Homo sapiens: one gene and its partners. The protein of the gene in region 3 purifies or fractionates together with the protein of the main gene of each other region. This does not show direct contact. Each region holds a gene or a part of one and is shown on either strand. Other genes may lie near its edges.

What was found.
Region 1: the proteins of LRRTM4 (region 3) and SGPL1 purify together in Homo sapiens (co-immunoprecipitation; 2 studies listed by BioGRID and IntAct, with this or other methods). This does not show direct contact.
Region 2: the proteins of LRRTM4 (region 3) and AP3B1 purify together in Homo sapiens (co-immunoprecipitation; 2 studies listed by BioGRID and IntAct, with this or other methods). This does not show direct contact.
Region 4: the proteins of LRRTM4 (region 3) and USP34 purify together in Homo sapiens (co-immunoprecipitation; 2 studies listed by BioGRID and IntAct, with this or other methods). This does not show direct contact.

The regions. Positions count from the first base shown.
Region 1 is NC_000010.11:70,853,175-70,861,353, reverse strand, and holds part of SGPL1 (sphingosine-1-phosphate lyase 1), read right to left. Parts: intron 6,647-8,179; coding exon 6,499-6,646; intron 5,567-6,498; coding exon of another isoform or gene 5,534-5,566; intron 3,741-5,533; coding exon 3,664-3,740; intron 1,984-3,663; coding exon 1,855-1,983; intron 1-1,854. UniProt on the Homo sapiens protein: Cleaves phosphorylated sphingoid bases (PSBs), such as sphingosine-1-phosphate, into fatty aldehydes and phosphoethanolamine. Elevates stress-induced ceramide production and apoptosis.
Region 2 is NC_000005.10:78,109,386-78,117,564, forward strand, and holds part of AP3B1 (AP-3 complex subunit beta-1), read right to left. Parts: intron 6,850-8,179; coding exon 6,741-6,849; intron 4,539-6,740; coding exon 4,367-4,538; intron 970-4,366; coding exon 822-969; intron 1-821. UniProt on the Homo sapiens protein: Subunit of non-clathrin- and clathrin-associated adaptor protein complex 3 (AP-3) that plays a role in protein sorting in the late-Golgi/trans-Golgi network (TGN) and/or endosomes.
Region 3 is NC_000002.12:77,511,615-77,519,793, forward strand, and holds part of LRRTM4 (leucine-rich repeat transmembrane neuronal protein 4 isoform a precursor), read right to left. Parts: coding exon 6,704-8,179; coding exon of another isoform or gene 6,698-6,703; exon of another isoform or gene 5,044-6,697; intron 1-5,043. UniProt on the Homo sapiens protein: May play a role in the development and maintenance of the vertebrate nervous system. Exhibits strong synaptogenic activity, restricted to excitatory presynaptic differentiation.
Region 4 is NC_000002.12:61,208,367-61,216,545, forward strand, and holds part of USP34 (ubiquitin carboxyl-terminal hydrolase 34), read right to left. Parts: intron 6,329-8,179; coding exon 5,694-6,328; intron 3,564-5,693; coding exon 3,406-3,563; intron 612-3,405; coding exon 533-611; intron 1-532. UniProt on the Homo sapiens protein: Ubiquitin hydrolase that can remove conjugated ubiquitin from AXIN1 and AXIN2, thereby acting as a regulator of Wnt signaling pathway.

The DNA of each region.
Region 1 (8,179 bases), on a different chromosome or scaffold from region 3:
TGCCTTTGTAGGTAATCTATTTTCTCTGGCTGCTCTCAAACACCAGTTAGATGTGTGTTAGCCTTCTCATCCTATCCTTTGCATCTCTTAGCCTCTCTTTCATACCTTCTATTTCTTTGTCTCTCTGGACTGCATTCTGGTTAACTTTTTTTTTTTAATCTGTCTTGTTCCATAAATGTGATTTTGGAACTATGTAATTATTTTACCTAGTTTTAAATGAACCAGGGCTCCTTGGATAAATGGCTGATTGAAGGCCTGGAGCAGGAAATGGACAAAGTGAACCTGAACCTGGAATATTTCGTCAAAAAAAAAAAAAAAAGGAAAGAAAGAGAAAAAAGGCTTTCAAAGATTACTTGGGTCATGTAAATGGACCTAGGAGCCAATATGATGTTTCCACTGGCCAAAGATGGATGAGGCAATTTGTACATCAATCTGAATAAGAGCTACAATGGATTGAGGCACACACAGCATTCCACAATTTATTCATCTGTGTCCTGTGGATAGGCATTTGAATTACTTCCAGTTTTTAGCTATCATGAATAACATTGCTATGAATATTAATGTCCATATATCCTGATATATATGTGTACTAATTTTTCTAGAGTATGTCCTAGTAGCAGAATTTCTGGGTCATAAGATATATGTATCTTCAAATTTACCAGATAAGGCCAAACTGTTCTGTGGCTATTCACTCTGGCCTCTTACAAGTTCTTCAAGAGTCTAATGGCATAGGAGAATATACTGTAAGTACATTATCATCTTCCCTCTGAAAGTCACCCTGTTCACCTCAGTACTCTAAGGGAAACTGCTGCTGTATTATGGGTGGTTCTGTTTTTAACAGTTTCAGTATTTTGCTTTGAAAATGAATGCCAGGCATATCACCTTTATTACTACTAATATTTGAACATGATGATTTTCATGGCGCCAACATATTAGAAAAACAAAACAAAAACAATGCTTCCTGGAAAAAAAAAAAGAAACTAAATTAGGTGCTCTTCGAATGGGCCCTTCAATAATTAAATCTGCAGTCTTTATAATGACTGCAAATATGATGAGTATCTGATAGGATTAGCACCTCTAGGACACCATTGCAGCATATTGAGTTAAATCTATCTATCCTACATAACCTGAGATTTCGTTTTTTCTAAAGACAACAGATCTAAACAGAAGTTTATCTATCATAGTTTACGAAAACTAACAACCATCTACTTGAAAGAACAGGTAAAACAAAGAATCCTCATGTGTTTCTTTAAATATAATGATGTCCTCCCCCTTTCTTTATGCCTAATAGCAACTAAATGAGGTTCAGTTTACAGCAAAATAATAAATTAAACTTTGGCTCAGGTAAAACCAGAAGTACACTAAAAACACTGCTGGATGGAACAACAAAAGTATACACAGATAAATAGGGGAATGGTAGGTATGCAGGTGGGGGATGAGGGAAGAAGCGGGTAGGGAGGGAAAGAGTGTAGAGAGCAGATATGGCAACATATTTACATTTAGTGAATCTAAGGTGTTCTTTAAGCCATCCTAGCAACTCAATGTAGGTTCAAAGTTTTTCAAAATAAAAAGGTGAAAATAAAAATATCTAGAAGAATATATACCAAAATGTTGACATTGTCTAGGTTACAAAATTACAAGTAACATTTAAAACTGCAGTTAATTAGGATCTTTCTACAATGATCAAATATTCCTTGTGTAGTAAAATGACCTTTCTACAATGATCAAATATTTCTTGTGTAGTAAAATATTTTTAATATTTTTTATTTTTTAAAATATAATTAATATTTATTAAAAACTCTTCTATTTTAACCTAAAAAATAAGGCTATTGGATGCCCCTTGCATATACTTACACATCCACACGAATCTGGTCCCCCATTGAACAGGGAACAAGCTATCCTCACGATTTCTGCCTCTATCTTGCGTAGTCCTGGGAAGATATCTGGATGCAGGGGGTTACTCCATGCAAAATCTCCATAAGCCTGCAAAAAAATGCAAGCAGATGTGAAATCAAAACTATTACACTATACAGGACAAAGAATCATGCACTAAACAACAGTTTCTAAGTATTAGGCACAACAATATAAACTGGAAAAAAAGATAAGATATATTCCTCAACCAAAAGATCAAAACATAGCAGAGGAGACAGACATGTAAATAAATAATTTTACAATGTGATGAGGAAAGAAGTATAAATATGGTTAAAAGCGCAGACTATAACACCAAACCGACCCAGGAGGAAGTCTAAGCTTTGCCTATTACTTTCAGCTGTGTAGGTCACATAATCTAAGGTTGTTTCTTCATACGCAGAAGTTGTTATGGTAGCTATCTTCTAGTGTTCTAGCAATAATTAAATAACATAATGCATGTGAAGCACTTAGTAGAGTGTCTGGCACAAAGCAGCTGTTGTTATCGACTGCAATATCAGGTGTGTGTACAGAGTGCTAAGGGACCCTGAAGAGGGAACAACTAACATCCTGAGTGATCTAGAGGTGTCTGCTGAGTGGAACTTTGAGAGATGAGTAGGAATCATCATTTGGAACAAGAGGAATGATGGAAGGGAAGGAAAACAACGTAAAAGCATGACACATTTAGTAAAGAGAAAAGGCAGGATTAGTGTTTATGTGGGAAATGAAGAGAAGTAGTTAAGAAAAAATAAGTGGGAGCTGGCTCATGAAGAAACTTGTATTCTCTGCTGCATAAGAACCTGAGTTTCATCCTGTAGATAATGGGAAGCTACTGAAAGATTTTAAGCACAGAAGATCAGAGCATTACACCAACTTATGCAAAACCTGCCATATTTATTTAGTAAGGGACAGTTTCATATTTATAATAATCAAACACAAAGACCTTAGAGATCATCAGTACAACCCCAATTTTATATGATGAAGTGGAGTTTCAAAAATAAATATGAGGGCCGAGTGCAGTGGTTCACAGCTGTAATCTCAACACTTTCAGAGGCCAAGGCAGGAGGATCACTTGAGGCTGGGAGTTGAAGACCAACCTGGGCAACAGAGTGAGACCCCATCTCCAACAAAAAAATACAAAAATTAGCTGGGTGTCATGATGCACGCCTGTAGTCCCAACTACTCAGGAGGCTGAGGTGGGAGGATCACTTGAGCCAAAGAGGTCAAGGCTGAAGTGAGCCATGATTACACCACTCCACTCCAGCCTGTGTGACAGAGTGAGACTTTGTCTGTAAAAATAATAAAATAAAATAAAAATAAATTTGATTAGAAATGGAAGAAGCTAAGAATGAGAATTATTTGAAGTATACATGAGACCACTGCTCATCTTGGGTCACATGATTTGAGAAAATTATGAAAGAGTTTCCCTATCTTATCTCTTCTTATCAAACAAAATCTGTCTCACCACAAAAATCTCATCTGACAGGACTACCTTCCCTAGTAATCTGCCTTCTAGACAGGACATCTGCAAAGACTGAAAACATAAATAACATTTTACTATTTTACAGACTGAAGATGTCTTTGATAATATTATACATATTCGCCTATGTTTGGGTGAAGAGAAACTTTTATGGTTTTATTGTACCAATAAGCTTTCCTTAAGTAATTTTTCTAATTACAAAAGTAAGGGAAAAAAAGGAGGTCATGTAAACTGGCACAGACCTCACAGGCTTCCCTCAAGAACTGGACACTCACCTTCACAAGGAGCTCAGTGAGCTTCTCCTCCCCACTGTACACTGTTCCAGAGGCTCTCCCCTCTTGCCAGAAGGCGTCTGCAGAGAAAGGTAAGGTCACTGGTCAGTAAGCAAGAATCTCTGGGAAGACAGGTTCTGATAAAGAAGAAACAGGAAGAAACTCCTCTGGATACAAAAGAAAAAAATGTTGAGTGGAAACCCAACAGCATTCTTATAGCAAATCAAGAAAAAAGTTCAATAGAGTTAGCACAATAAAATAAAGATGAAAAATCATTATTATCAGCAATGTGAAAAAGATATTAATAGCATTTAGCTACAATAAAGGCAATCTGATAATAATGTTGTCCTCATCCTCAACTGCCTTCTAACAGCAGGAACATTTGCCTTTGTCTATACTTATTTTTTGTTCTCTATATGGCTTTGGAGTGGCCTTTTTCTGCAATAGCTTCCTTCTTCTCTCCTTTCCTATCCAGTCCTAGGAATTTTGAGAACTATTATGAGCAGAGTTGGCAGAAGAAAGCAAAATGAAAAGTGTGAAATTTCAGCACACTATCATCAGAGATGAAACCAGCAAACAAACCACAATGAGGTATAAACCATGAGCACCCCGGTCTCAGACGCCGGCTCCCTTAAGCCAAGCCTGGAAACCCACATAAAACTAGTTACCTGCTTCCAGCAGCACACGCTGTAGCATATTCAAGATCAGGAACACAGTCAACATTGGGATAAACCTCCTTTATCCCAGTGTGGAAAGAAAAGTAAAGTTCCTGAGTAGAATATAAGATCTGACTTTCCACTTTCCTCTCTCCCCGAGACATTCTTCATTTTACCCACAAATTTGTTGATATGGGTGTCTCAGGTCCTTGTGCTACAATGCAGCTGTGCCCTATTGAAAGTGGGTAGTGAGAAAGCTATTACGGAAACACACCAACTAAAAACTGCATGGAGCCAAGGGCTCTCCAAAGCAAAGATCTTCAGCTCTTGAGAACAGAAAACTAAGTGGTAAATATACAGACAAACTCATTCTTACAGCAATCTGCCAAGCTCTGGCTTGCTGCCCGTTTGACTTTCACTCTTTCCTTAGAGGACACTGCTCTGTACTATACACAGCTTCAGACCAGTGGTCACCAGCCTTTCAAAAATAAGATAACTGGTTTCATTTCCTGTTCTTTTACTGATGCTAGAGAATACAGCAATGGACAGTGACTTAAACATTAAAGAGAAGGCAATATGATGGCGGCAACCAGGTCTCATAATCATGGAAATCTTTAACACCAGGTTTTAGAGTGCTAACCACTGCTTTATTCATCTACATCCTAGACTATATCAAATTTTGTACTATTCAATGTCAAGACCTCAACACATGTCACTTAGAAATTGTAAGGGTATTTGTCAAGGCCGAGCACAGTGGCTCACACCTGTAATCCTAGCACTTTGGGAGGCCAAGGTGGGCAGATCACCTGAGTTCAGGAGTTCGAGACCAACCTGGGCAACATGGTGAAATCTTATCTCTACTAAAAACACAAAAAATTAGCTGGGTATGGTGCCGCACGCCTGTAATCTCAGCTACTTGGGAGGCTGAGGCACGAGAATTGCTTAAGCCTGGAAGGTGGAAGTTGCAGTGAGCTGAGATCACACCACTGCATTCCAGCCTGGGCAACACAGTGAGACTCTGTCTCAAAAAATAAAAAATAAGGGTATTTGTCAAAATGCAACATGGCTCCTGGTTGGCTCCTAGAATAGAAAAAAGAACATTAGTTTAAAACAAAACATAGCAAAACAAAAAAAAACCCTGATGAACTAGAAATAGAATTTGTAGTGTAGTTAATAGCACTGTACCAATGTTAATTTTTTAGTTTTGATAAACGTACCATGGTTATAGAGGATGTTAACATCAGGAGAAGCTGGGTATAGGGAAATCTCTATCATCTTTGCTACTTTTCTGTAAATATATCAAACTAAAAAGCTTCTTTTTAAAAAGTACTTGTAATATGATCTTAATCAGTAACAAACATAAATCTGTTTGAGTTAATAATAGCAATAATGTTTAACATTTACTGAATCCTTACTATATGCCAGGCACTATAAAACATTTATACATGTATGATCTCATTTAATCCCCATAATCATCTTTTCAGGTAAGTACTGTACTACTATTACTATCCCCATTGTAGAGATACAGGAACTGTGACATACAGAAGTAACTCGCCAAAGGCATACTTTAAGTGGCAAACCAAGGTATGAATCCAGGCTGGTTCCAGGGTTACGCTCTTAAGCACCAAGCTATTTGGTCTATTTATCCATCCCATATGTGCTCATGCATACATGTGTATACACACAGACAAACACTATTAGCATTCTCAGAAACAGACAGATATACATATATAGATAGATGTAAACTATATAGACAGCTCTACCTATAGCTACATGCATAAAGATAGACACCATCTGTTTATCTTTGATAGTGGAATTATAGTGACTTATTTTCTTTTGTGCCTTTATGCAGATTTCACATTTTTACATGGATCTGTATTTCATTTGTATTACATATCTTATATTCTCTCTTCTTAAACACAAATATATTTGTTTTATTCATGCTTACAAAAGGAAATAAAAGCCAAGTTCCACTGTCTCTGAGATTTGCTTGCTTTATGGATGAAGGATGAATCTAAACATAATTTTAAAAATAGGAAATTCAACCTGTGAAACAGAGAGTAGGCCCTCCTAAACATGTATTAACCAATGATGAGTTATTCTTAACCTATGTGAACATTAAACAATGACAAAACCTGTCTCTTTAAGGAAGTAGAGAGCATGTATATGCCAAGCATCATACCCATAGAGCTGTACTCCTTAAGTTTCTCCAAAACAGCAGATGAGCTCAGACCCTGGGAGGGTAAAGCTTTCACATACTCTTTGTCCACTTTCAGGAATGACATGTTCTTGCTAATATCATCCTTGGTCTTGTTCAACTTGTCTTGAATCTCCAAAGGTAAGAAAGACAAAGTTATCCAGATGCAAGAGTACAGTAGAGACAGCAGAATTATTATGACAGTCAAGCAACTGCTCAATGCTAGGCACCGCACAAGTAACTAAACTAACATTTTTCCTAAAGATATATGGTGATATTCTGACTGATCAGCTACTTTCTGGCATGTACAATAGCCTCTTAAAAATTTGAAAAGCGAAGCTTCTCTCTAAAGGTCAAGATGCACTCAGCCGGTCGCGGTGGCTTACACCTATTATCACAGCTCTTCAGGAAGCCGAGGTGGGCAGATCATTACAGGTCAGGAGTTCGAGACCAGCCTGGCCAACATGGTGAAACCCCATCTCTACTAAAAATACAAAAATTAGCCAGGCATGGTAGCAGGCATTTGTAATCCCAGCTACTTGGGAGGCTGAGGCATGAGAATCACTTGAACCCAGGAGGTGGAGGTTGCAGTGAGCCAAGATCACACCACTGTACTCCATTCAGCCTGGGCAACAGAGCAAGACTCTGTCTCAAAAAAAAAAAAAAAAAAGTTGCACCCAATTTCCCCATAACCCTTTTCTCTGCCACATTGACATCACTGCTGCTTCACTTGGTTGGCATTGCTAAAGTCAGCACATCCTTGAGGGCAGTATTTGGACTTTGATCCTGCCTTGGCAGCAGCTACAGTGTGTGTGTAAAAGAATCAAAGGTATAACTAGGAACAGTGGCCAGAAAACTGGCCATGCTGCAGTAAAAGTGATTCTGGTCCTTGTGCAAGTGATGAGCTCCTTCAACAGACATACACGCAGCACACTAGGAATTTGGAGGTCCCATTCAACACTAGCACAAGGCATTCTAAGAACTGCCAGGAAGACTCTAATGTATCTCCTTAAGCTGCTGTCGACAGCTTGCACTGTCTGACCCCAAAATATTAAAAGGAACTAAGGTCCTTTCTGCTAGGTAGTTTATCAACTATGGTTCCCTTCTTTTCCATCCTCAAAGCCACAGCTTCTGAGCTGTTTTCTTTTATTCACTTACATATTCACATTCATATTCACTGCATATTCACAAATATGCAGGCCAGGGACACATAGTGAACAAAACAAACTTAGGCAATGGAGCACACAGGAAAAAAAACCTCCTGTCCTCATGAAGTTTATTTTCAGCAGGAGAGACAGAAAATAGTAAGACAGGTAACAAAAAGTGCTGAGGGAAAAAAAATAGCAGAGTAAGGAGGCAGAAGGGCAGGGGCTGCTGCTTATAGCAAAAGGCTCTTGGGTAGTAGGTTTGGGGAGAGAAGCTACATGTCACGATTTGTCACAGTGCTATTGTTTCAGCAATATATTTGTTAAAGAACGCCAGAACTCACTCCACACTAAGATTTTCTCATCTCTAGCCAAGGATAATTAGAATACAAGAAGATCTTCTTAGATATGGCCCTCAGTGAAACCACAGGGAAAGCCACTCCTTTCGAGCATGTCTGCAATAGTCTAAGAGGCCCACACTGGCAGGGAGCAGAGGCTACACTCCTGGGCAATGCCTGGGC
Region 2 (8,179 bases), on a different chromosome or scaffold from region 3:
GTTAACAGAACAAATAAACGAAAACAATATTGGATTAAGAAGAAATTGAACTGAATCAAAGGCAGAGTTTGGCCATATTTTCAACAAACAGAATAACACAGTTGTATATAAAAATACTATACTTGAAGTCTAGCATGAACATGGTCCAGTTATAGGAAGGGGGTGATTATTAAAGACCAAAAAGATAATTATCGTTAGGTCTGAATTCTATATTTTTATTCTTTTAACTAGACTTGAAATCAGATAGAATACATTTTATATTAATAACTATATTTTTGCAATTTATACTTTATTTTTTTCCTGCTAAGCAGGCAAAATTCAGTGTTAAAAATGTTATTACCAAAAAGCATTATTATTTTATTATATAAGTGGTTCCATTTGTTTTTAAATAAATGGCTACGCAAATTCTTACTAACTAAAGAATGTATACTCTTTAATTGAAGCCTTAAAACACACTCTATTATGCAAAATGCCCAATATTTTTAAAAAGTGAATAGTCTCAATTTCTTATGATGTATGTACACTTATAATTCTTTGCTCAATACTATTTTTGTGACTTCCTTTCACTTCCCCTTCAGCAAAACCCCCCCCTTGTCACAACCTAGCCAAGAACAAAAAAGGTCATATGCGTAAGAGTTCCTTGATTTCAGTGGCAAGGGATGAGATTTTTTAAAGTTTCTAGCATTTCTGCAGAGTTGGGTTATAAGGGAAAGGCTTATCTAGAAAAAATAAAATCACAGGAGTAGATGAGGATGGTGTTGTCTATTTTAGTTGCTATAAGAATATTTACCTTCAATTACAACAAATGTATAATCTCTTACCTTAGTGACTCTTCTGGATTCAGATTCACTTTCAGGTTCTGACTCTGATTCAGAATCGGAAGAACTGTCTTCTATTGAACTAGATTCGTCATTTGAAGAATCTGAAGTTTTAGATTTTTCATTTTCCTTCTCCCCATCTTCAGAATCACTACACATAATAGTAAATTTTGAAATATGAACTTTAACTCCTTTATATAAGCAGTTTATAAAAAAATTGTTTTTAAATTCCAGAATACATTAATGAGGTAATAAAAAAGGTATTACCCATAACCAAATAAATTAGAACCCATTCAAATTCAATTCTATCCTGTCATACAAATTTCAAATGCAAAAAGTCATAAAATGACACTAAACAATATAATCAAAAGCAATGTAGAAAACATTAAATGTTTGATTTACCAAGAATTAAGTACTACCAGTAACAACGTTAAAGATATTTAGGCTGATTTTTTAAAACGCTATCTCAAAATACTGTGCCTGTGTGTGTGTGTGTGTGTGTGTGTGTGTGTATGTATGTATACATACATGTATATATATACGTATATACATATATATTCATGTATATATACGTATATATATACGTATATGAGACAGGGTCTCATTGTACAGTGGTGCAATCACGGCTCACTGCAGCCTTGACCTCCCGGGCTCAAGCGATGCTCCCATTTCAGCCTCCCAAGTAGTTGGGACTACAGGCATGCACCACCACATCCAGCTAATTTTATATTTTTTGTAGAGACAGGGTCTCACTAGGTTGCCTAGGCTGGTCTGGAACTTCTGGGCTCGAGTAGTCCTCCCAACTTGACCTCCCAAAATATTGGGATTATAGGCTTGAGCCACCACACCTGGTTTAGTAATATATTTAAATATTTATATATCTACTTCTGCTAAAATAGACTTGTATTTTATACATTTTCTACCCAAGAAAATTACTTACACAAGTTCCCAAATGTGACCTTAAACACATTCTATGAGAAAATGTTAACCAGTTCAAAGGAAATTCTTCTAAAGTACTATCTTGCTAAAAATTTAAGCTAATCAAATATAAACTTTTAAAATATCAAATGATCATACCTAAGTGCTTAACACCATTCATTTGTTCACCTGCTCAACAAATATTTATTAATTATTGACTACATGTTGGCATTATGCTAGGTGCTAAGGATAACGATGGTTAGTAAGACACAGAGGATCTCTGTGTGTCTACCCTACAGGGTCTACGGTCCACTGGAGGATACAGATAAGGTTGCAGTGATAATACAGTATAATAAGTAATAAGTAATAAATTATAGCGTGTCAGGAGAACATGTGGAGAGACACCTAAAAAAACTTGATCCAATTAGGAATGCTTCCTGGAGAAAGAGACATATAAGCCAAGATATAGGAGTAAGGCTGGCAGATGGGCAGGGAAACAGTTCTCCAAGGAGAAGGAATAACATGTGAGATGACCAAACACCCTTCTCTCAGGGGATGACAAATGCCTTGTGGTGCTTTATATTTTCCTGGAAACTAAAGGTCTAGTTCTCTCTACCACATGTGTGTGTATTTTTTTAAGAATCTACTGTGGGCCAGAAAGGGCTAGGCACTTCATACCAATCATACTAATTATCTAATTTAAATGCACTCTTCCTGGGTACATTATTATCCCATTTACAATAATGAAATTAATATTTAGAAAGGTTAAATAACCTGCTCAAGGGCACATAACAAGAGGGGCAGAACTAGAATCTGAACTCAAGCCTGTCTCATTCCAAAGTCCGTATTTTTTCCACTATGTCATACTATCTCCCTTCAAATGAAAATACCTTGGAGTGTAAAATTTAAATTTGGTCATAAATATTTATGATTACTAAAGGGTGGTTTTTGAAGATGTTTAAAGCTTATTAGGAGCTTTAAAAAATTATCATACTGGCAAAGTTAAAAAAAATTCTGAGACAGAAAAATACAGGGGGAGGGAGAGGAGTGAGACAAGGAAAGAATCAATATTTCCTAGAATTGATTTTTGTGGAGGAAATATGATTGCTATTTATTAAAAATGGAGCCATGGTAACATCTCAGAGCACATGTAATTATATTTGAAGACTGAAAAATATGTTGTTGTTTTTCCCTGGCAAAAAAATGGCAATTTATTATCCCCAATTCACTGGTTAAAATGTGTACTTAAAAATATAAGGTTTAGAATGTATTTGTGGTTCTCTTTGTAATAAACAATTCTTTTAAATTCAAACATGGGTAAAGAGAAAAATCCATTTCTGAAGAAAAGAATAATAAACCTAATACATGACTACAAATTTTGAGTATACTGACTTTTGCCATCTGAAAGGACATTTCATGCACTGAACAAAACTTTCCCTTTCTAGAAACAGGACATGTTTTATAACTCGTATCATCATAGACATGCTGATATTAAAGCAGAAGTACAGGATTTCTCTCAAAGACAAGGCTATTATAAACCAAGTAGCTCCTTTGCTGCAACAAGTGAATGATTCTAAATATATTCAACTTCTAGCTTTTAAGATAAGATTTTAAAAGTAAAAGTGTTATTTTATTATGCATCACTCAATTTTGATGGTAATTATTGTTTACCTTACTGCTTAGAGTTTCAGATGTTAATCTAATGAAAAGAATTTACTGGTAACTAGGTTTTTAACTTTGCAATGATGAAAAGCCTGTATTAATTTAACCTACAGATTTCATTTGTTCTGAACAGGAAAAACAATATAAATCACTTTTAAAATCATTAAATCCTGACTTAAATTAATAAAGTCATAATTAGGGCATTATGCTGTGTTTGTTATGGAAGTGGCAGGGAGAGCTGCTTTAATTACTGTCTGTAATAAAAGGAGCAGAGAGCGTACTGCGCCCCAATCAGTGCTGTCAGCCACGACTGAGCCGGGCTGCAAGCTCATCAAGTGAGCGGGCAGCAGGCTCCCGGGGAAAGGACCATCATGTCGGCAGAGGCCACTCGCTGACAGCAGCGGGGAAAACAGAGTTGCACAATCCAAGATATTAGACCCAATTACTCAAAATTTTAATGACACTTTAATACATGATAATGTTATTGATAATGGGAGATCTTAAAAAGTGCTAACACTTAAAGATCTTATGACCGTCTTCCTTCACAGCCCTTGACTCTAATATTTGGATCATAATCTTTTTAATATAACATTATTTAGAAAAATCAATTGTCTTGGTTACATAATGGCAAAGTGTTGAAGGATTTAATTTTAGCCCTCAGCAAAATCGCTACAAAAGGTAATTAAGTGTTTCATACCTATTGCTTGATCACTTAACTCAGCCTTCCAAGGTTATACCAATTTTCAAAATGTAACCCCAAGATATGTTCAAGTTCAAAATGAAAGCTAAGCATTACAAGTAGGAAAATAATGTGAACAACTAGCACTTTAATTTTAAAAAGATTTAATATCTGGAAAAAAATACACACTTTTTTTCTCTCACCATTTTTTGATTAATAAGAAACATCTCTGCCTGGGGCAAACTTTCACAGAATATTTTTTGAAGGAAATTCTGACAAAATAAGTTACCTTTTTCCTTTGGCTTTTGAGTTCCTCTTGGCTGTTCTTTTGTTTTCTAGGCCTGACTCCCGTCCACTCTCACTGTCCTGCTCACTGGAGGAGTCCTCACTGCTGTCCTCATTGCTGTCTCCTTCCTCCCCACTTTCGCCTTGTTCTCCACTTTCACTTCCAGATTCACTCTCTGAAAAACAGAACCAGATGTTCTTAGATTTATAGTCATTTAATTAGACACACGGACACCTGTAACTGTCAATATTCATCACAAATGAAACCAGATGTTGAATTTTAGTTCAGTGGACACCACTTGTTTAACATTTTATTCCCACACCCCATTCTTTCAGCTCTATGGATTCCTTTAGCACTGTGAGCTTGGAGGGAGGCAGACAGAGGATGCTCTGACAACGAGGAGAGAAAAGCTAAGCAAAGGTGAACCAAGTAAACCAAATTTGAGGGAATCTCACTTCAAACCCCAAAGTATATAGCTATGTCAAAAACTTTCTTTTAAAGAATTACGTAAGGATTGATGTAAGGCTAAAGAAATAATTTTGAATTCTTCTGCTTGTAATGGGAAATTCTATTTAGAGTAAAAGAAGGCAACAGTTGAATCTTCTTAGGAACAAATTTTGAGAGGAAAATGAGCCATTCAAATCACTTGGAAAGACCTCCAAATTCAAAGACAATAGGCAAAATGACTAATTAAAGAGTTATTACTTATTCGAGCTAGTAAACGAGTTTTCCATAGGTCAAAGAGATGATCAAGTTACACTGAGGAATTATACTTTTAAATGTTTTATGTGTAAATTATGGTATGCTAGGACTGTTCGCAGAAGAGAATACATGAAGAATATATGTGTATTTTTTAAGTGAAGCATAATTTTTACTATTTAAAATGACTATAACTACAGAGTTGTGTCCCAGACAAAAGGACAAACTGTTGCCCTGCCTGTGATCTATGTAACGAAGCCCTCTTAGGCAGGAACATAACCTTTAATTAAACATTCTAATGGTTAAATAATACCAACATCAGGAAGGTCCATCACAGTGAAAACCTAGGACTGCCTGTATTGTTTTAAGACGGCTTACAAGGGGTACAAGCATGGGTTCTCAAGTTAGTGTTCGGATTCAGATCCTGGCTCTTCTACTTGCCAGTTGTAAAACTGAACAAGTTATTCAACTTCTCTGGGTTTTGGTTTCCTTTTCAGCAAATGGGGATAACACTAGTTACTTTTCAGAGCTGTTGTGAAGATTAAATGATTTGAAACATACAAAGGAGATTAGAACACAACAGGGTCTGCCACAGGGTAAGGCACTCATCATTATCATCATTTACAAACAGGAAAGTTTATTTTACTAAAATAAAGCTACTAAATAAGGACATTTTAGATTTGTGGTAATATCCAAGTTACACGCACATACATATTAAGTCAGATAACTGGCTTATGCTATAAACAATGAAAGAAATTACAGGTAATGTATCACAGATTAATTTATCAGATACTAAAAACAAAGATTTTTGATAAGGAAGACAGAGAAAAGAAGAGTGAATTACCTTACAGTAGGGTAGCAGATAACCATGTAAGAGTGACAGGCCCTGGTTCTCCAAGGAATAAAGATTTTAGAGAAAGTTGGGTGTCGTTTGGTCTTGGGTCAGATTTGCCTATTAGCTTAAGTGTTAATAAGAGCATCAGAAAGTGACTACAATCTATTTTTCATTATGCAAATCACTCACAGAATTTTAGCAATGAAGGGACTTTAAGAAATATTTAACTGTACCCCTTCATTTATCTGATATAGAGAAAAGTAGGTGCCTTATTCAATTTGCATAGGTAAAAGCCAGGGCCTCTAAATCCTTCCTATTAAGCATTCTTTTCACTGCATATAGTTACCCTCAACCTTTAGTTTGATTTTTTTATAGTATATAGAGACTTAATAATTTTAGCTTTATCTCTATAGAGGTTCACAGAAAGAGATAAGTATAAAATGAAAGAGAAAAAGACTCTTCAAGGTATAAAATAAACTTTACGTTTTTGTAAAAGAAAGTTACTTTTAAAGACCCCACTAAAAGTTCATCAAGTGTAAAATTATGTTTTTCAATAGATATATTAGGCATTGTGGTTTAGAATTCAGAAAAGTATGAGTTCCTGTTTCAGCTATACCAATGTATCAGCTACTATCCAAGAGATATTGTAAAGTAAAAAGAGAATTTAGTAATTAAAAATTACTTTGAAAACTAAAGAGTGATATATAAATGAAAGGGATTATTTTGATAATACAAACTTCACTTAAAACTACCTGCTGAATATTATGGATTAGGCCTTGTTTCTGAGATATAGAATGTAATCTACTATGTAAATAATATATGCCAATAAATTATAAAACCCACCACTGTCACTGCTACTATCAGAAGAGTCCTCCTCTTCCTCAGATTCAGAATAAAACTTCTTAGCAGAATTCTCTTGCTTTGCTTTTCCTGCTGGGGTCCATTCTTTTGCCTGTTTAAACAAATAAAGTAAATATAAATGAATTCTCATTCAGAGATTTAGAGTTCTGGCAAACTTAATCATTAACAACATAACTGAATTCAAAAGCAAGCTTAAGGCCTCCACAGGGAATGCAACTGTTAGAAGTCCTGGCATTAAGGCTGATTCACTTTACTCCTAAATACAACAACACAAACTCTCACTCAGAGGCCCTATGTTAAACCAACAATCTTATTTTAAATATACAATTTTTAAAACTTTTGTGTTTTTTGGCCCACAGAAGATTTAAACAAAAGTAATATATCCTAAAATAGGTGAGCGAAACTAGAAGCAGATACAATAACAGCAATAACAAACACAAGTTGATAGCTTGACACTGAGGGAAAAGAGAGAAAAAAAAAAAGAAAGAAAAGAAAATATTTAGTGTAGGCAATAAATTGCCCTAACCATCTCAACAGCCTAAATCCTGGAGTAATCCTTGACTTCTCTTTTTTTCTCATATCCTAAACATCTAAGCCATCAAGAAATCCTGTAGCTACCCTGGTCTGACCCACCCTTCTCTCCTGGACTACTCGTTACCTTGCTTCTACTGCCCCTCCACCCTGCCCCCAGCAAACAAACTTTGCAAAACACAGCATCTAGAATGATTATATTAAAACCTAAATGAGAGCAAGCTCCTTTTTGGCCTGAAACCCTGCAGTGGCTCCCCATTTTACTCAGAGAAAAAGCCGAAGTCCCTACAACAGTCTGCACAGCCCAATACAACCATCCTTTCATGACTGCCCCTCCACAACTGTCCCCGTCGCCTGCCTCTCTCACCTCTTGCTGCTCACCCTCTTGCCTGATCTGCTCTGGCCATGCCTTACTGTTCCTCCAAACGTCCCAGGCATGCTCCCAGTTTAGGGCCTTCACCCTAGCTCTTGGCACTTCCAACACCATTCCCCACCACCTTTTTTTTTTTTTTTTTTTTAATCACAGCATGTATTACTTGTTAACATACTATACAATCTACTTGTTTTTTTAACTGTTGGTCTATCCCTGGTAGAATGTAAGTTTCTGGAGAGCAGGGAATTTAAAATATTTTGTGCAATTTTTTTTTTTTTTTGAGACGGAGTCTCGCTCCGTCGCCCAGGCTGGAGTATGGTGACAGGATCTCGGCTCACTGCAAACTCTGCCTCCTAGGTTCAAGCGATTGTCCTGCCTCATCCTCCCAAGTAGCTGGGATCACAGGCACCCACCACCACGCCCAGCTAATTTTTGTATTTTTAGTAGAGACAGGATTTCACTATGTTGCCCAGGCTGGTCTCTAACTCCTGACCTCAGGTGATCCACCTGCCTCGAC
Region 3 (8,179 bases):
TAAGGTTATGGTATTTATTATTATTGTTTGTACATGGAAAGAAAATATACTAATATTTTAATGTTTGTGTTCAGGGTTTTCCTTTTAATTATGCTTCTTCATATTTCTTTCTGAATTTCTTACATTTTCACCATTTTTAAATATTTTATTAATATGTATCAGCTTTGCTGTCATTTCATTCCCCAAACTTATGTTTACAATATTATAATGTATAGATTTGACTTAAGGTCAAACTTTATGACCTTAAATCAAATGACTTTGCTGTCATTTCATTCCTCAAACCTATGTTTACAAACCTTACGTAAGTAAACTTAAGGTGTTAGCTTTCATATATTTTTATTTGTATGTTTAAGAGACAGCGTCTTAGTTTTGCCCAGGTTGGAGCACAGAGGCTATTCATAGGCTCAAACATAGCTCAGGACAACCTCGAACTTTTGGCCTTCAGCGATCTTCCTACGTTAGCCTCACAAGTAGCTGGGACTACAGGTGTACCATATTACCTGGCCTCCCTTGTAAAGGACTAATTTTCCATGGTTACGTTTGTTTAGATTTTAATTTCTCTTGGCAGTGATAGCATTATTTTTAAACTCTTTAGCAGGAGTTTAAATACATAGTCTTTGTACATATCTAGCAGCTTCTAGCAGACGTTTATTTAAAAAGCCAATTGTTTTGATACCTTAGGAAATACTGTGCTTTTTTTCTCAACCTTTCCTACCTTACAGTTACAATTTTAATGGCTTATGGAGTGCATGAGAAAAATAGCCCTGTAATTTCTTTTTCCTTTCATGAATATTGAGATTTTATTAAACTGACTCAATGAATGATGGTTCTTCTGGTACTATAAAAAGCAATTTTAATTTTTAAAATGTATTCAACATCACTTCATGCTTTTCACTGATCAAAAGACATACTGGTTTTTCAAAACTCTCAGTGTCTAGTGATATACAGGTTGCTTCTGCTTCACTTTGATTTAGTGAATCATGAAACTCTAGAGACATGAAAATTCAGATGAGTCACCAAGTCCCCAGTGAAAATATTACTGAGCAACTCCTAAAGCATAAAACTATCTCTAAATGCAATTCCTGAGAAGAACTAGGGATGATTACATTTTATAAACACAGAAAAGTCTCAAGAAGGAAATTCTGGTATCCTGTGGATATTATTGGGGTGTGTCAAAAGCTACACATTCCTAAGACCACAGACTTCTCAGCTGGGAGTCTTCAAGAGCAATCATTTATGAAAACCTTGTCCGTGAGATGCTAATACCAGCTAATTCTAGAAAAAGAAAAGGGCCATTTATTGTCAGTTTAAAATCTTTCCTAAATTAGCTATGTCGGTCTTTTTTTGGCAGCTGTCACTCTTCACCACTACCATTTGTGAATTCTAATGAAAACTCTATTCACAAATAGATTTTAATTGGACCTAATTCAGACAATCGATTTTTTAAAAAGCAGACATAGTTTTAAGTGCTTTCAAAATATCTAGTTACTTAGCAGAATTTCAAAGACATATACGTGTGTGGGAGTGTGCACTCATGTGCTCACACATGTGTATGCGTGAGTTACATATTTTCCCCTCAAGCATAAAGAAATTGTATGGCTGCTCACCTGGGCACCCCAGTTTTTAGTAACTGAAGAAGTTCTTTCTTTTCTCATTGACAAATGAATGTAAGTAGCTCAGTCTTTTTCTCCACAGCTCATCCTGCTTTTTCAGTTCTGAGAATGACCATAGAGACTTTACAAACTTTATACTAATCCGAGAATTGCTTTGTGTTGGGAAACACTGTGCTAGCTGAGTCACTCGTTTGAGAGATGCGTCACAGAGAAACGAAGTGACAAGTCTAAAGCAACACAAAAAATGGCAATATGTAGTACAAATACAGACTTGACTATGTTAAATTTTGTTTTTTGAAAAAGAATTTTAGACTACATAGATGTAAGATACTTATAATTTATATTTTATTTGTTTATTTTGAGATGAGTCTTGTTCTGTTGCCCAGGCAGGACTGCAGTAGTGCAATCTTGCACTGCAACCTCTGCCTCCTGGGTTCAAGCGATTCTCTTGCCTCAACCTCCCTAGTAACTGAGATTATAGCTGTGCGCCACCATGACCTGCTAATTTTTGTATTTTCAGTAGAGACAGGTTTTCACCATGTTGGTCAGACTGGTCTAAAACTCTTGACCTCAAGTAATCCACCCACTTTGGCCTCCCAAATTACTGGGATTACAGGCATGAGCCACTGCACCTGACGATACTTATAATTTTTCAGATATGATAATACATTTACCTTAAGGGCCATATTCCTAACTAAAAAATCTTGGTGATTTTAACAAATATTTGTTACTAATAATTTAAATTGTCGTAAAAAAATTTAATTAATTTTGATGGACATTAATTCTGATGGAAATATGTTTCTATTTTGTCTTTATATGCACACACACAAACACACACACACATATATATATACAGACATACATACATGGATAAACTCACATACAAACACACACACATCCTATTTAAATATACAAATACAGTTTCAATCATAACATTGTACCATGACACAGTTGTAGTCAGCCACCTAAATAAAGTTTGTTTTCTATAGCTGTATGTCGATAAACTGTTAATTAAACTCAAGGTAACTGGGTCTGCTTTCCTTAGAGTCCTCTTTATATATACATTATGCTTAGTAGTCCTTGGAAATTCACTTAGCACACTGAAGAATATCAATATCTAAAGTGTGAAAAGAAGTTAAGTGGTCTACTTTATACCAGTTGTTTGAACCTGACCTAACATAGTCCATAAATAAAAGTTGTTAGAAATGGTTTATACCACCCACTGCATAACAGTCAAAGAAATTATATAACCTGAACTGAAAACCAGTATATTTTTAAAATTTTGCTCAATTTTGAAGAAAGTAATGAAAATATTAAATATTTGGAAAATATACACCTATATTGTCACCTTTACTGCCATTTTCCTAATAGCAGCACTGTTAGCACTATAGGATCATTAAACTTTATATTTCAATTACTTAACTATTGAAACACTTTGGATGGAGAGTCTCTTTAGAGACTACATTCATTCATTTTAAATTTTCACCAATTTAACTTTTTTTAATGTACAAAACAAACTACAAATATTCTTTCTTGTCCTTTGTTCACATTGGCTAATATATAAAGGCCGCTGCTACTTTCAGTTGATAAAACAAATCCTAGAAGAACTAGATATTCAAAACTTTGTTCTTTACAATTTCGAAGGAAAAAATTGATATACAGAATGAAGCAACTTTATATCCCTGGTCATATTTTTTAATGAGATAACATTATGCCAAGCTTCACAAGCTATTTTTCAAAGTAAATATTTGCATTTCCTGTCTATATAGTAACACCTTACTGTTTTAGGAAAAGCTGTATCCTTTTGGCTTTAAATTCTCTTTTCTGAGTACATACTGAGGATGTATGTACTAAGTGAATGATTCAGTTCAACCAAGCACACTGATCCACTCAAAGTATGATTAGGATGTATGTATCCCTTATACTTGTGCTATAATTCATATTAATTACTCATAACTATCTACTCTATTTCTCTTTTATAGATATGAACAATTTTTACTGCCCAAATTATTAAAATATTATCCCTCATTTTATCAGAATGGTATGTGCACACAGACTTTTCAGAATTAAAACTTGCAAAACATAGAGAAAATTATTTAATTTGAAAATTGCATGCTATATTTGTGTGGAGGCTCACAAACGCCAATCTAATAATCTCAATTTAAAAAATCCTTTTAAAAGAAACAAGCAAAATGGATATTGTAACCATATTTAGGTCATGGTAACTGAATATAAAGTTAGGTGGAAAGTAGAGTTTTTAATTTAATGCAATTTTTATTTCTTCAAGGCACTATCTTAGAAAATTAGCATTTGGTGCTAAGTTTTCCAATTAAATATTTATGGCTTTATTGGGTAGAGTTTGGTGTTTTTAATTTTTTTTTAAAAAAACCTACCTCACAAAAATGTCTTATAAATATATTAATGGTTCTCTGCTAAACTAGTGATATATGAGACTTATGAAAACAATGCCAAGCTAAAACTCAGCATACTTATACTATTCCAAAAACATTGTAAAGTTGGGCAAATCGCTGCCCTCTCTTGGCTCTATTTTGTAGAGAGATTTTGTCCAAAGGAATATTTCTCAACAGGAGAAATTTTACTCCGAGTGACAAAGAAGTAAGAAGTAATTAGGGTTTTCCCTATAACAATTTCTAAGAGTTTGCTTTTCCTCACCATTTATATCTACCTATAACTGTAATACAGCAAACATTCTGTCAAAAAATGGGGTGACCCCTGCAATGTTTGTTTTTGTATGCTTTCGTTTTAAAACAAGTTGAAATTCATTTAAATATAGTTTTATAGCACCCCCCTCCTCATCCTAAATGGACATATGATCTTAAATGTATAGCCTACTAATGTCCATGTTTGAGGGCACAGAAAGTTTGAGCTACTTTAGTAAGGATTCCATTTTGACTCAACAGAATTATTACAATATTTAATTACATTCTTCATTACTTAATGCCTTAACAACACATTCATTTTCAACAATACTAGTGCAATTTCATGACATTAAATGTCAATCTATATAACACATACAATATCAAAATGTGTTTATTTAAACACACGTTTTAATTAAATGAACCATCTTTTAAACTTGTTTCTGTCATGGTAATGCCTAGGGTTTTTGATGGAATAATCTGTGAAATTTAAGATCTCTGGAAAAGTCTTAGAACCCCAGTTCTCAAATCCTGGTTCTTTAAGAATGTTTCTTTCTTCTTGGTGATTCTTAAACATAAAAGTTAGCATTCTACTCCAAAAGTCAAGAGAAAATGAATTAATGCGTCTAGAATTTTCTTTTCTTTTTATATACCAGCCTTTAAGAGGATCACAAAATATAAGGAGAACCCAGAATAAAATAGGATGAACTTGTGTTACTAATACTCAAGTATATTGTATAATTGTGGGCCTGCAATAAAAACATCAAGCCTTGTTAGACTTTTATAGAAAATCTTTTATTCTTTTTAATTTTTAAGGGCAATTGCTTATACAGTTTCCTTTTAGGAATTTATTATCTGGGATTACTTCTCTTATTTTCAATGATACACAAAAAAGAAGAAAATGAATTCTTTGAAGAACAGTTCAATAGTCCAAATTGTACTGAGTTAGAGATTATTTCAAATTCAGTGCTTTGTCTGAAAACATTTTCATTAGCATTTGTAGTTAGGACTATGGAAAAATTGGAGTATATGCTATCAAAGAGCAATTATATTTTCCAACTGTTAACTAGCATTAGAAAGGGCAACATCTTTAATTACTCATTAAAACTGTCTTTTGAAAGAGTGATCATCTAAAATCAGATACTAAAACATTATATTGCCAGAATTTAACCTCTCTTCACTAGTTTCTTCCAGCAACAAGGCCTTAGTAGTCAGTCTTTGCACATAATGATCAACATTACCAAGAAAAGAACAATTTACATCCAGCATTACTTATTGACAAGTTTGAAATTTGTGACTATTTGTCTGCTCACTAACATGATCCTGTAAGTGATCTTTTAAATTAAATAATCAGAAACCGGGTCCAAATTTATTCTTATAAAAACAAAAATAATATAACATGGAAGGTACACCTTTATTTGAGGCTGTTACAGAAAGGGAGGATACCCAGAACTCAAACCTCTCTCCTTTTATTTATAAATATTTGTATCACTTATTTTTTAATAAGTTTAACAAGAATACATATCATTTCTTTTGGGGATGACAGCAATACTGACAAACAGTCCCTGTTATGACTGCCATTTTATTATTGCTAAATCATCCACAAAATTGTGACCTGATTTTAGTTACCAGGGACAAAGCCAAAGCATGGAATTGAAGTTTCATTCTGATTAAACACAAATAGCCAGTGCATAAAAACCTTTGAAATCGGATCTATATCCCAGTAATTAAAAAACAAACAAACAAACAAAAAAAGAAGGAAGAGAAAGGAAGGAAAGGAAGGAGTGAAAGAAAGTAGGAAAGAAGGAAACAAAAAAAAAAAAAGAAAGAAGCCTTAGGAGCCTGATACAATTACACAGTAGGCCTCTGACATTCTCTATGCTGGTATAATAACTAAATGGCAAGTAACATGGGTGTGAGATCCCTGTTGCATGCTTTCATTAAAACTAAAAATTTACAACAAAATCAACCCTTGGGAAAATTGCTCTTTGGTTTAAATCTTCATTACCTTCTGGAATTTTGGTAAACTCACTTTATTTTTAAATTAAGCTGGCCCTCTTCTTTACTCCATTACAACAGTCAAACACCAAGAACCAGACAGAAATTTCAGAATGAAAAGAGTTTTGTTTGTATGTGTGTTTTTAAGTCCAACCCCTGTATACAAATTGTTAAAAAGCAGATGTTTTAACATAGTGCTTTATTCCAACTTATCCTTGAATGAACTTCCTTCAAGTTTCAACCATTTAAAAAAAAAAAAAAAGCAGTCAATTTCCTGGTGGTTGTAATTTAATTAAGTAACCTTTCACACTGAGCAAAACCCAAAAGCAAAAGGGTCATTAATCTTTCTAGTGATTAGAGACACCTCTAGGGCTTCAAACATTTACCTCTCCTTCCCCGCAGTAGAAATGCTTTTAGGAGGATCATGGTTCATACCTCACATTCCCTGGAGCCAGAGATGGTATATGTGCAGGGCCCAGATCCATTAACCGATATATCCATGGTCTCAGAGTTTGTAGGCTTGTAGTCCACATAATACTCCTGTAAAGGGGAATTCATTTGTCTTTCAGACTCTCTGGCCTTTTTCCGCCGCCTCTTCATAAGAGAGTGTTGCTGGAGTTGTTTCATGCTGGCTGGGTAGCGTTTCCAAGACACATAGATCACCAAGAGGATCATGGCCACTGAGAGAAAGAGAGCCACACTCCCGGCAATAATTTTGTGAAATGAAACATGCTCATACTCTTGCTCTGCGCCAGGAATCTGAAACCCTGGGGAAGGGCTTGGTGTTTCAAAGGTGGATTGGGTGACGTCAGGTTTGAAGATGGTAGGTCTAGGGATAATCAGAGGTTTCTGGGGAGTTTGGGGCACCAGGTGTGATCTTTCTGTGTTGACCACCTGGACTTCAGAACAGATATTATATGTTTCCACTGCATCACTAACCTTTTCACCCTGGATGTGCTTAGGTCCCGCACATATCATGGTGCTTTCCTTATTTCCTTTGAAATTCTTAAGCCAATAAAATAAAGGACAAATGCTCCGACTGCATTCCCACATATTTCCAGACAATGTGATGGATATTAATGATATCCACGCATTGACAGTTTCCTGTGAGATATTGGTGAGCTTGTTGGAATCCAAATTCAATTTTTGTAAATTGGGGAGGCATTTAAATGTGCCCGGCTCAATTCCTTGGATGTCATTCCCTGATAAATCCAAGTTGTGTAAGGAACTCCAAGTCCATGTCAAACCTTGGCTAATGGAGCGAATCCTGTTCCATTGTAAGTAAATTGAGCGGAGGTTGAAGAGACGTGGAAAATGAGCAAAGTTGATCTTGGAAAACTGGTTGTGCTCCAGGTGGAGCTCCTTTAACTTCAAGAGGCCAGCAAATGCATTTCGGGACAAGCTTCGAAGACGATTGTAACCCAAATCCAAAAAATCAAGATTCCGACAGTCTTGAAAAACTCTTATGGGCACAGTCTTTAGTGAGTTAGATCTCAAGTGCAAAATGATGAGTTTCCGAAGGCCTTTAAATTGTTCAGATTGCAATGTCTGAAGCTTATTGTAGGAGAGGTCCAGATTGCGGAGATTGGGAACTGGGTGAAATGTTTTATTGTGCAGATAAGTAATTTTGTTGGAGCTTAGAATTAATTCTTTCAGTCTACGGATCCCTTGAAATGCATCTTCATCCACTGAGCTAATGTAATTATGGTCAAGATAAAGCCATATAAGCTGGTTAAGGCCGGCAAACTGATTGGATTTGAGCTTCTGAATGCTGTTGAACCTTAATGATAAGCCTTGTGACCCTCCAGAAATGTTCTCAGGGATATCTGCGAAAGCATGAGACTCACAGTACACAATTTTGCCATCACATCTGCAGTTCTTTGGGCAAGCTCTCTGAGCACCCGTGAGCAT
Region 4 (8,179 bases), about 16 Mb from region 3:
ATTGATGTCTCATGTCTCCCTAAAATGTATAAAATCAAGCTGTGTCCCAACCACCTTGGGCACGTGCCATCAGGACTTCCTGAGGCTGTGTCACGGGCGCGTCCTCAACCTTGGCAAAATAAACTTTCTAAATTAACTGAGACCTGTCTCAGATTTTCCGGGTTCACAATGGTAACCTCAGTTTCTATACTGTCAAATAAGTAGGCTTTTGGGAAATTATGTGTGCCCTTAATGAAATCACATGTATTTCATTTTTGTCCCTACAAATGAATAAAACTAGTCTATTTCAAATGGCTGTTCTAAATACAAAATAATGGGAAAAGTATGGAATTACTATGGAAAAAGGAACAGCACCCTAAAAATTATGACCTAATTATTCTTGGGATATAAATTCAGGTTTACTGATCTATATAATTAAAACCTTGCCACCTGTAAAACAGTTTACCATAAACTCTAAATGTCTATAAAGTAAGTCTTGGTGAGAACATTAAAATGAGATAATATCCACAGTAAAATGCAATAGAATATTTACCTCTGTCATTAGAATCAATCCTCGATTAAATACAACAAGAAGTCTGTCTTCATCAGATTCTAATAGTATTCTGAAGGCACTAGAAGAAAACATAAAGTTCAGTTTGAGAAGTCTGAATAAGAACACAACACTTAGGTGATGAAAAAATAAAAAGAAATAAAATCATCATTTAAGCTCTCTGCTTTCCTACCTACAGAAAAGAGACTGCTTCATCTGTTTCCTGGAAATGCAGCATAAGGAAATAATATTAAATAAACTCTAACTAAAAAAAAGTCTATTAATATCTAATCAACTGCTAATTATCTACAATGGCAGAAGATATGGGAATATTTTTAAAGTTTCCACATAAACAATGTTGATTTTTATAATAGGCTCATCTTCTGATTGTTAAATTCTGGATAATCATAAAATTCACCATATTATCTAAACACTCATCAGCTGGTAATTAAAAAAGAGTAACATGAAGGAAAAAAATACTAAAAACGTGTCAGCCTTGAAAATAGTTTATAAAATACAGTCATGTGCCACAAAATGAAATTGTGGTAAATGATGGATCACAAACACAATGGTGGTCCCATAAGATTATAATGGAGCTGATAAATTCCTATTAGCCTAGTGACTTCATAGCCATGGTAACATTCACAATGCATTACCCACATGTCTCTGATGACGCTGGTATAAACAAACTTGTTGTACTGCCAGTCTTGTAAGTATACCACAATTATGTACAGTACCTAATACTTGATAATGTTAATAAATGACTATGTTACTGGTTTATGTATTTACTATATTATCATTATTTTACTACTTATTTCAAAAAAAGTTAAATGTAAAACAGCCTTAGACAGGCCCTACAGGAGGGATTCCAGAAGAAGGCATCATTGTCAGAGGAGATGACAGCTCTAAGCTAGTTACTGCCTCTGAAGACCTCCCAAGTGGGACAAGATGTGGAGGTGGGAGACAGAGATACTGATGATCCCAACCCTGCTAGGCCTAGCCTAATTGTGTGTGTTTATGTCTTAGTTTTTAACGAAAACATTTAAAAAGAAAAAAAATTTAAATATGAAAAGCTTATAAAGATATAAATACTTTTGTTCAGCTATAAAATGTGTGTTTTAAGTGTTATGATAGTGTGTTTTAAGTGCTACGATAGAAGAATCAAGAAGTTAAAAAAACTTATAAAGTAAAAAAAGTTCAGTACATTAATAATGAAGAAAAAGTATTTTAAAATAAATTTAGTGTAGCTTAAGTGTACAGTGTTTATAAAGTCTATAGTAGGGTACAATAATGTCCCAGGCCTTCACATTCCCTCACCACTCATTCACTGGCTTACCTAGGGCAATTTCCAGTCTTGCAAGCACCATTCATGGTAAGTGCCCTACACAAGTGTACCATTTTCTGTCTTTTATTCCATATTTTTACTGTACCTTTTCTATGTTTAAATACGTTTAGATACACAAATACTTACCTTTCTGTTATAATTGCCTACAGTATTCAGTGTAGTAACATGCTATACAGATTTAGAGCCTAGGAACAGTTGGCTATACCATATATCCTAGGGGTGTAGCAGGCGCTACTATCTAGTTGTGTGTGAGTAGTCACTCTGATGTTTGCACAATGATGAAATAGGCTAAAAATTTATTTCTCAGAATGTAACCCTGTTGTTATGCAACACATGACTATAATTACTCACACAGCTATATTACTGTTAACAGGTCTTCTTTCATTAGATACCAGAAAAATGTTGTTATAGACTACAACTGGAAATCCTTCTACTTTATTCCTTTCCTTTTTCAAGAAGAGTTAAGAAAGCTCCAAATCTTTTTTTTCTTTTTTTGAGACTCGCTCTGTCACCCAGGCTGGAGTACAATGGCACAATCATGGCTCACTGCAGCTTCCACCTTTTGGGCTCAAGGATCTTCCCACCTCAGCCCCCCGAGGAGCTGGGACTACAGGTGCATGCCGTCACACCCTAATTTATTTGCTAACTTATTTATTTATATAGAGATGGGGTTTTACTATGTTGCCCAGGCTGCTCTAAATCTTTTTTGAAATAAAGCTTTAAGTAGTAAACTTTGGGAAAACAATTGTATTCAAAATTAATCCAAAATTTAAAAACAATCCCTTTAAGAAATCCGGCAAAGGCGTAGTTAATTTCCCTGTTTACTAATGAAGACTCACATTTGAAAGCTTTCCAAAGAAGACAATCTGAAATAACCTCATCTTAGATTGAGTAGCTTAAGATATTACAGTGAAGTCTTCAGTAAAGTACCATTAAAAAAAATGTGCCTAATAAAAAACAACACTTCCAAGTCTTAGATGTAATACATAGAAGAATTTAAGAAATTAGCCTGAACTTTATTTCTCTAGGTTAAGGGGAATTAAGGGTAATTTGTAGTAGTTCCTGTAACCATTCAATAACTTCTGTAGCTCTGAAAATTAATTATAAAGACTATGTTTTATAATTTTGGCCAAGTCATATAGATCAGAAAGCCAGATAGATATATTTGGGCTAAACAGAATGCAAAATATTAACAGACTCATCCAAAGGTGCAGAAAACTTCCTGGAGGCCTCTAGAACTGAACTATCAAGCCTGAGTTAGGATAAATTGCCATAAACAAGACTATTCAAGCTTTGGGTAGAAGGCTATACATAAAGGTTCCCTTCAACCCTAAAATGATAAAACATACACAAATACAAACCAAAGCCAGACCAAAAACTGTTTAAAAGTAGTTCATGAACCTTCAAAATGTTCCAAAGTGGCTACATGCACAAATGCTTCCCCAATGTAAATGATTTATCTTTAAACATCAAAAGGATGGTCCTCATCTCACTGGAAATAAACAAGACAAAACTAAAAACATCTTTTTACCTTATTAAAGTAGTCCAGCAGGAGCGGCCATCTAAGCAACGTAAGTAACAACTTATGGTTGTTTTCTTGAACTGTTTAATATCTTCTAATTCTTCTTCTCTCATATCTGGCCTCTGAGCTATAAACAGCTGCATCAGGTTAAACAGTTCTTCTACTGCCTAAAAAAGCCAAATAAGCCATATGATCTTTTAACCCTATAGCATTTTAGAAGGTCAGTTTCTCATTTCTACGTTCATTAATCAACTCTTAAAATTATACAAATAAGCTAGATTATACTTCCATTCAGAAAGTTATAAAATCAGTAACAAATTCTATTTAAAAAATTTTGGCTGGGCGCAGTGGCTGATGCCTAGCACTTTGGGAGGCAGAGGCGGGCAGATTGCCTGAACTCAGGAGTTCGAGACCAGCCAGGGCAACATGATGAAACTCTGTCTCTACTAAAATACAAATAATAACAATAATAATAAACACTAAAAGAACTCAACAAATCTTAAAATACAAGTTTAGAAAGAGTAAAAACTGTAAGTGAATACAATTCATTTTTAGTCTTATTACTGCTTAAAGCACTACTTTTGTAACTTCAAATGTAAACCCAGAGGCATGCCACACCATCTCCTATCCACTTTTTCTTTAATTAATGAGAAATCATTACTTTGTCACAAAGATTTTAAATGCCTAAATAACCCTTAAATTAATAGTGTATATGAGGTAAACCTTTGTTCCAACATTTAAAATGCTTTTCTAGAATGATGCTCAGTTCAATTTCCTGATGAATAAAAAGTAAAAACAAATATTTTAGTAAAATCACTAGCTGTGATTTTATAGACTCATATGCACATGTCAGGAGAGGACTGCTCTTCTAACACATACTTGTCAATGAACTGAAACCCCCAGCTTCTTATTTTTCAAAGCAAAAAACTGACTTAAGTACCATTTTCATGAAAATTTCTAATAGATAAGGACATTCTACAATAAAAGACATTACATTTCACTGATGTCAAGGGCAATAAATAACATGGAGGGATAAATTCTAACTCATCTAGTACTTGTCAAAGTATATTTAATTCTGGACATCACATCTAGTAACTAGATCAAATATTATTTATGTGAATATGATAGAGACAAATTTACTGAAACTTAATAAATCCTATCCCGACCCCTTTGAAGTCAGAAAGATTGATATTTTGTATTCTTATGGCATTGGTTTTCAATTTCTTGGTACTTGTACACTCACTCTCTTTCCTGCATTGTAGGGATTCTGATTTTTTCTTTTGAGACAGAGTCTTGCTTTGTTGCCCAGGGTGCAGTACAATGTCTCAATGCAGCCTCAACCTCCTGGGCTCAAGCGATCCTCCCACCTCAGCCTCCCAAGCAGCTGCGACTATAGGTGCACACCACTACTCCCAGCTAATTTTGTATTTTTTGTAGAGATGGAGTTTTGCCATGTTGCCCAGGCTGGTCTTGAACTGCTGGGCTCGAGTGATCCGCCTCTGCCTCCAAAGTGCTGAAATTACAGGTGTGAGCCACTATGCCGGCCTGGGATTCTAATTTTCTCTGACTAGAAATTAGGTTATTCTTCCCAGGTGTGAGATTCTATACAACTCATTACACCATCTAGAAAAAAAAAGACCGTCTATAAAGGACGGTCTGTCTTTAAAGTACAGTTTACAACAGAGAATAAGAGGCAACAGTGAAAAGTTATTAACCAGGTTTGACAGCTTTACATCGAGGGGAGGAAACTTAATATAAAACCTACAAGTAAGTGTGCAGAGTAAAAGGGACCCAATTTAGACTGCATATATATGTATCTCGATTGATCTCTTAAGCATTTCATTTGTTTGGATGCAGCTTGAGAAAAAATACTGCGGAATACTACTAGTTTTAGATATAAAATTGTCTAGCTCACAGTTTACCACAGCATGTAGATTTTGCTAAGTATCTGATTTTTAAATAGCAAAGTACTCAATTCCTTAAAACTGTACCATGAAGCTGGCTTTTTTCATTAGGCACACATGAAGAATACATTTACAAAACCACAAATTAAAAAACAGGTAAGTTTTACTGGATATGCAACTTTAACTTCACCCTAAGAAAAGTTATCTACACAGTTATCAATTTTATAACAACACAGCATTTTATATATGTATTTAAGAAAACAAATACACATTAAGTTCTTAAGAAAGAATGGTGAGACTATTCTATATTCTGCCACCACTTCCCACCAGGGGAAAAACAGGTATTTCCAATCTATTTGAGGATACAGATAAAAGAGTATCAATTTTACTCACTCCAGGGTATTGGCTGGCATGTGGTGTAAGATTCTTAAAGGCCCACTGGATGTTCTGGTGAGAAGCCAGTTGTCGTGTGAATGCAGGAGACTGCTCACAGCAGAGCCTCAGAATGCCATAGTACGCTGGCAGCATCCCACGGTTAAAAAGCACCACATCCTGATCATCATGGTCAGCAAGGATGTAATTGAAGGCAATGTTCTTGGTTACCACTGGGTTCTGAACAATAAGGCGGATATTCTCTGGACAGTCAGCACAGACATTGTACCAAAATGAAAGCAAAGCCTGTTTATTGTGATTTGTAGCTATTGCTGGCTCAGAAAGTTTAGGCTGGAAAAGGTTCCACAAATCCATGAAATATGTGGAAAACATCAGCTTCTCAGTTTTGGAAATTAAACAGTAAGTCATAAAGCTAAAATAGGGCACTAGCTTTGTAGTGCCATGAACAGCAGCATCAACATAAAGTTTGGCTCTTGAGAGCAAACCAAGGAGCACGTTGTAGACCTGATGTAGGACTACTGTTGTGTCTGGACTGAGTGGAAGGTCACGGGTTGGGATGTGCAAAGACCTTGTTGACCGGAACATCTGACGGAATGAATTGCTTGGTATAAGGGACACCAGAAGATAAGCTGCAGCTATAAAATGTAAAACAAAACTGTCAGATCCTTGTAAGATATAAAATAGACTGAACAGCAGTCATTAATCACAAAGCCACTGTTCCCTTTAATAATTAAAATGAATAAAAAGGGACATGAACATCTCTTTTAGTATCTTTCTGCTTTCCCCTTGGCCCCACAAAAAGATCCCAAGAGGTGATAAAAATAGATACCTTCTATTCTGCCATTGTTATTTTTGAAGTGGCAATAATTTTTAAACCACTTTTCTTTAGCTTGCCTAAGATGCAGAATTTTCCCACTTTATCTTTTATTTCTTCTCAGGAAGTAGTATGATTTAACAGAGGGAACCCAGCATTTGCAGTCAGAAGACCTACCAAAAGGTACCTGAGGAGGTCAAATCATTCAATGTTCTACAGTCTTAGTTTTCTTCTTAATTGAAAAATAATGATAATTTACTTTGTAATAACATACAGATATGGTAAAATATACTTGTTATAAAGAAAGAAATAGATATACATAAAAGTTCAATATATAAGATTACATATATGCTAATTATAGAACATTAACTTTGGAAAATCTTTAAAAGTCTTCTAAGGCTAACCTTACACCAAAGGAAAGAACTGGGTGTTAAATTGTAACCAGATAATATATATTTAAGTTATAAAGAAAGAATGAGATATACATAAAAGTCCTATTTGATTACATATATGCTAATTACAGAACATTAACTTTGGAAAATCTTTAGAAGTCTTTTAAGGCTAAACTTACACCCAAGGAAAGAACTTGGTGTTAAACTTATTAAGCCTATGTTATAATGCTGAGGAGTTAGTGACTTATTAGTTGCGCTAACCTGTAAAAGCAGTTACTATCAACAAAGCATTGACCTAGGTGCTGTATAAACTTCTCATTTAATCCTCACAATGACCCTGGATGGAGGTAACAGTGCTCTGGAAAATCTGAATCTTGGAGAAGCAAAGACCAAGGTCACACAGATAAAGAGGTGGAGGCTAGATTTTGCCTTGAGAAACAATGATGATGATAATGATAATGGTAAAACAATAATAGTAATAACTATAATAAGAATTGTGAGCCTTTACCAAATGTATACTATTTGACGTCATAACTTTATGTGGCAGGCATTGCATTTATTATCCCCACTTTCACTCAGGCTTACAACAATGGGACTATCTCAGCTTACACAGCTAGTGGCCAGAGCTGGGATTCAAATCCAGCCAATCAGATTCACAGGCTAATAATGCTCCTAACATTCACTATGGAACCTCCTCAAGACTCTCTAATGTCTGAGTTTGGGTTCTTTTCAGGACAACCATTATTTGTCTCCCCCTATTCTAACTATAACTTGATAATTTCCATTGTATTGTCAAAGCAAACAAAGTTAGGGTTTCTAAAATTAATTTTAGTTTATTTTACAAATTTATTTCCAAATTAAACTTTGTGCACAATACTCCATTTTCTAGATATTTCTTTACCTATATACTAGTCTGCTTAGTCAGAATTTTTAAGGCTCAGTTTGTTATGTGTTTCAAATATAAAAACCTGGCATGTAGGTATCATCCTGATCAATTTTTGCATAAAACTTCAATCAAGAAAAGTAATTTACGATTTAAAAAAGCCATTTGGCGGCTGGGTGCGGTGGCTCATGCCTGTAATCCCAGCATTTTGGGAGGCCAAGGCGGGCGGATCACGAGGTCAGGAGCTCGAGATCATCCTGGCTAATATGGTGAAACCCCATCTCTACTAAAAATACAAAAAATTAGCCAGGCGTGGTGGTGAGCGCCTGTAGTCCCAGCTACTCGGGAGGCTGAGGCAGGAGAATGGTGTGAACCCGGGAGGCAGAGCTTGCAGTAA